2 separate regions of the Homo sapiens genome follow, and region 1 is linked to region 2. Evidence: fine-mapped expression QTL. A gene starts in region 2. The other region holds a variant in brackets. All regions are shown on one strand. Distances are between the middles of the regions. Region 1 has its middle 29 kb from the start of LINC02517. Region 2 holds the start of ACOX3 (acyl-CoA oxidase 3, pristanoyl).

Region 1 (3,016 bases), 92 kb before region 2:
TGCCTGTCCCAAGTACTCAGAATCAGAAAGAATCACCCAACTGTGTTCTGTGGCACCAGGTATCAATTCCCTGTGTACCTCCATGGACTCAGCGCCATCTCAGAAGTGAGGGCGGAGGGAAGGAACCTTCTAGAAGGAGGAGTTTGCTGCAGAACATCCAGAGCCCACAGCACTGAGTCGTCTCCATGCCCCTTGCCTGTGGTTCTCTGTAGCACATGGCAGGGGGGTGGGTGGTGCAGCACCTCCTTCTGATGCGTTGAGTGTCAGCACTGCAAGGTCCCCTACCCCATGCCCAGTGCCCAGTGCCCAGTCCCGTGGGAGCTCCTCATTTGGGGCAGAGACCAGGGCAGAGGCAGCGAGGGCTCCTCTCCTCCCTCACTCAGGGGCTACAGGCTGGTCACTTGAGCTCTCTGGAAATCAGTCTCCTCATCTGGAAAACGGGGCTCATCCTGACCTTGTGATGGGCATGAGGTGATGGTATCAGATAATGTGCGCGAACGACCCTGTAAATCATAAATTGGTTGCAGTTTCTCTCCAGCGACACCCTAGTACACTTTGGAGCCTGGTGAACTTGAGTTTGCATGCCAGCTCCTGACCTCCTATGGCCCACGTCCTCACTGGAGGATGGGCTCTGGAGGCTGGAGGGCTGGTGGAAGAGGAAGTGAGATGGCAGTTCGCTGGCTTCTGCATCAGGCCCCAACTGTACCCTGGGCCTCCCAGGCTTGCACGTGCCTCCTCACAGCTTCCCTTGAACATCCTGTATCATCCAGCAGCCCTAAACCGTGTGATTTTTTCCTCTGGGAGGTGACAGCCTGGACCAGAAGTTGAAACCTGGCCCCAGGGTATGGTGTGCCCCACTGTCAGAGGGACCTCAGATGAGCCACTAAGCCTCTCTCTGCCTCAGTTTCCTTATCTAAAATGGGTGGAATCAGCTGGGCGCCGTGGCTCATGCCTGTAATCCCAGCACTTTGGGAGGGCGAGGCGGGTGGATCATTTGAGGTCAGGAGTTCAAGACCAGCCTGGCCAACATGGTGAAACCCCATCTCTACTAAAAAAATACAAAAATTGGCTGGGTATGGTGGCGGGTGCCTATAATCCCAGCTACTCGGGAGGCTGAGGCAGGAGAAATCACTTGAGCCTGGGAGGCAGAGGTTGTGGTGAGCTGAGCTCGTGCCACTGTACTCCAGCCTGGGTGACAGAGCGAGACCCTGTCTGTAAAATAAAATAAATAAAATAAAATAAAATAAAATAAAATAAAATAAAATAAAATAGGTGGAATCATCTGGTCCCTGGCTGGGCTCACAAAAATCCCACAGGGAATGAATGATTATCAGTCTACTGGGGCTGCCATAGTGGGGTTCCACAGACTGGGGGCTGGAACAACAGACATTTATTTTCTCACAGCTCAGGGGGCTGAGAGTCTGAGACCAAGGTGTCGACAGGATTGGTTTCTCCTGAGGCCTCTCTCCTCGGCCTGCAGATGCCA[C/A]CTTCCCTCCGTGTCCTCACCTGGTCATCCCTCTGTGACTGTCTGTGTCCTCATCTCTTATAAGGATACCAGTCAGACTGGATTAGAGCCCACTCTGATGACCTCACTTTACCTTAATCACTTTTTTTTTTTTGACACAGAGTTTTGCTTTTGTCACCCAGGCTGGAGTGCAATGGCGCGATCTCAGCTCACAGCAACCTCTGCCTCCTGGGTTCAAGTGATTTGTCTGCCTCAGCCTCCCGAGTAGCTGGGATTACAAGCATGTGCCACCGTGCCAGGCTAATTTTGTATTTTTAGTAGAGATGGGGTTTATCCATGTTGGTCAGGCTGGTCACAAACTCCCTACCTCAGGTGATCCACCCACCTTGGCCTCCCAAAGTGCTGGGATGACAGGCGTGAGCCACCGCGCCCGGCCTAATCACCTCTTAAAAAGCCCTGTCTTGGCCAGGCGTGGTGGCTCACGCCTATAATCCCAGCACTTTGGGAGGTAGAGGTGGGCGGATCACGAGGTCAGGAGATAGAGACCATCCTGGCTAACATGGTGAAACCCTGTCCCTACTAAAAATACAAAAAAAATAGCGAGGCGTGGTGGCACACACCTATAGTTCCAGCTACTCGGGAGGCTGAGGTAGGAGAATCCCTTGAACCTAGGAGGCAGAGGTTGCAGTGAGCCAAGATCGCACCACTGCACTCCTGGAGGTTAGGGCTTCAACATACAAATTGTAGGGGGATGCAACTGAACCTGTAACACCTTGTGTGGTCATCACTCCAGGGAAGGATGTAAAGAGCTAGGACTCCCACAGCATTGTGTTTGCAAAGGAAGACCCGGGACCTTCAAGGTCTTTGTTGCTGACCTCCTCTCCCTCAGGAAAGGCAGAGGGTCATCTCCTCCCTGGAGTGGCTTCTCCCATGCTGACCTCACTTCTGGGAGGGGCCAGGAGGAACCTGCCTGCGTTTCTGAAGCCCAGCTCTAGCACATTTCACCCAGAGGCCAGGATCCCATGCAGAATGCCAGAGGCTGAGGGCAGCGGGCCGACCTCCCTTGGCAGTTTCAGAGTCTTTCTTCAGTGCTCTGTTATTTTATACAGGATTCCTATATGCGAAAAGAAATGCATACCTTACAAAATTCCTCAGTTACTGTAATTGGCAAGTAAGGATCTCTGGAAAGAGCATTTGCTCATTTAATAGGACTGGAAGGGAGCCGCAGCTTTTTAAATTTTTTTTCCTGGTGATGGTTTTTAAAGAATTTAAAATGCAATGATATTGCAAGGAAGAGTGGACTTTTCCCTGGTTGGCAGACTCCATCTAGCCATGGCATACTGCAGCAAGATTTCTGCGGCTGCCCACACGTCCTGCCTGGTGTAGAGGTGGTTCCGTCCAAGCTCCTCGGCTCACCACTGACCTCAGCTGAGCCCCTCACGCGCGGGTCCTACGAGAGGCACAGCAAGGAGACACCCGTCCCTGGTCAGGGGAACAGAGGGGAGCCGGCCCCTCATGCACAGCCCATAGTTGGGGGACAGCAGAGCCCAT
Region 2 (2,500 bases):
GAAAAAAGCTTTTAAGACCCAGTAAAAAAACTAACCTGCTTAGGACATGACAAAGTTGGCACATGTGCCTGTACTGGTTTAACACAGGTTTGATCCTAGGTCTTTATTTAAAAGATAGTTTCCAGCTATAAGAGAATTTAAAACCCTCACTGCAAGTGTATTACATAAAACACTATCACTCTGTCTCCCAAAGAGACTCAAAGTAAAAATAAAAGCGAGAACTCCCACTAATTTGTGAAAATTCTCAAAGGAAGGGATAAGGAGACCACTACTACTCCTGCTGCCCTCCTCCCTGCCACCTTGCCTAGTTCATAAGACAGGAGGAAAAGAGAGAAAGCAAAAAGTTAGAAAGAAACAAAAGTCAGATAAATAGCCAGACAACCTTGGCACCACCACGTGGCCCTAGGAGTTAAAAAAAATAATAATAATAACATCAACCCCCGACCTAAACTACTTGTGTTATCTGTAAATTCCAGACATTGTATGAAAAAAGCATTGCAAAACTTTCTGTTCTGTTAGCTGATTCATGTAGCCCCCAGTCACGTTTCCCATGCTTGCTCAATTTATCACGACCCTTTCACGTGGACCCTTAAAGTCGTAAGCCTTTAAACAGGCCAAGAATTTCTTTTTTGGGGAGCTCAGCTCTTAAGACGCAAGTCTGCCGATGCTCCCGGCCGAATAAACCTCTTTCTTCTTTAATCCGGTGTCTGAGGAGTTTTGTCTGTGGCTTGTCCTGCTACAGTAGGTGACAGATGACTTTCATCCCTCATGGGACAACGTTACATCATTCTTATGAAACAGCCATGGCTGCACTCAGACTTAGGAAGGCACTGGCTGTAATGCCAGCACTAAAAGCAAACCAGAACCCAAGTGGAGAAAAGTTAGCTTTCATAAGAGGACTCATCTTTTACGTTCACAAACTTAGGCTCCCTGACTTTTATCGGTAATCAGTACTGAGGACAATGCGTTCCACACCCGCTGGCTGGCTGATGTTTGATTCTGTAACTATACCACGCCCAGAATTCTCTCAAAAGGGAATAAAACACAGGTCAAATTCCTCACCCACACACTCCACAGTTCAACCCCTGCCAGGGAAACCAAAAGCAGGAAAGGATCTCCAGCGGCGCCATTCTCATTTCCGGTCCCAGCACCCCGCCTCCATGACGTCAACGCGCCGCGCCACCGGGCTGCGTCATCTCGGCGCGCCGCTGCCAGGGCTGTACACCTGCTGGCTGCCATGGCTGAGGTGGGCCGTACCGGGATCAGCTACCCAGGCGCGCTTCTCCCACAGGGCTTCTGGGCTGCGGTCGAAGTGTGGCTGGAGAGGCCGCAGGTGGCAAACAAACGGCTTTGCGGCGCCCGCCTGGAGGCCCGCTGGAGCGCCGCCCTGCCCTGCGCGGAGGCCCGCGGCCCCGGGACTAGCGCAGGCTCGGAGCAGAAGGAGCGGGGTCCGGGACCCGGCCAGGGTTCCCCCGGAGGGGGCCCGGGTCCCAGGTCGCTATCAGGACCCGAGCAGGGCACGGCATGTTGCGAACTTGAGGAGGCCCAGGGCCAGTGCCAGCAAGAGGAGGCACAGAGGGAAGCCGCCTCAGTGCCCCTGAGGGACTCCGGGCACCCCGGCCATGCTGAAGGAAGGGAGGGCGACTTCCCCGCCGCAGATCTGGATTCGCTTTGGGAGGATTTCTCCCAAAGTCTCGCCCGTGGCAATTCGGAGTTGCTGGCCTTCCTCACCAGCTCCGGGGCGGGATCGCAGCCAGAGGCGCAGCGTGAGCTCGACGTGGTTCTCAGAACCGTCATCCCGAAAACTAGCCCACATTGCCCCCTTACAACTCCCAGGAGGGAAATAGTCGTGCAAGGTAAGAGTGTTTTGATAGTGGACGGATATGATTAGATAAAAAAGCATTCATAGAACCTCGGGTCAATGAAAAAGTCCTAAGGGTACTAGTTCCTCTGCGATGTCCTAGGGAGGTTGTTAGGTGTTTCATAGTTTTTTGAGTGGGCGCATAGAAATGTGTGTCCTTAGTACAGAAGATGGGATAATTGATTGGGGTGGTGTCTGGAAGGCTTCAAAGAGACAGTGAAGGACTAGCTGGATATTGCGTAATACCTAGGAGTTTAGCAGGTAAAGCTGTAGGTGTAAAAGTGTTGGGGACCAGCCTCAACACCACCCGTAGGGTACTCAAAGTCCGGTGGCGACGAAGGAATGAGACGAGACAGGTTAAGAGTGCATAAAGATTGGGGGCCAGGGGGCCAATTGCAAAATGGAGGCTGCCAAAGCCTGGGAGCTCTGGTCTCCACACTATTGAGTACAATCACTTAGATCTAAGAAGCGGACGTTCGGGGCGAAAGGGTGAAAGGGAGACAGTGCATCATACATGTCATCTATAGCAGTGGCGGTTTAAATGAATCTCCTTTGTGCTCAAACAGCGTTATCTTTAACTTGTCGGAGAATAACCAGTGGGAGCGTGCTTAACTAGGAGCCTGCATGTCTGACCACATT

What was found.
Region 1: its variant is fine-mapped to the expression of ACOX3 in tibial nerve (GTEx, PIP 0.98).

Annotation. Positions count from the first base shown.
Region 1 is chr4:8,347,573-8,350,588 of GRCh38, forward strand. No RefSeq gene overlaps it. Among named protein-coding and RNA genes, the nearest start is that of LINC02517, 29 kb to the left of the region's middle. The variant C/A (reference allele first, on the strand shown) is at 1,487.
Region 2 is chr4:8,439,586-8,442,085 of GRCh38, forward strand. It overlaps ACOX3 (acyl-CoA oxidase 3, pristanoyl), which reads right to left and starts at 1,138. Exons shown (of 18, transcript NM_003501.3): 1 at 1,063-1,138. It overlaps TRMT44 (tRNA methyltransferase 44 homolog), which reads left to right and starts at 1,192. Exons shown (of 11, transcript NM_152544.3): 1 at 1,192-1,856. The coding sequence starts at 1,238. RefSeq lists enhancers at 1,026-1,265, 1,084-1,817 and silencers at 1,286-1,495, 1,546-1,605.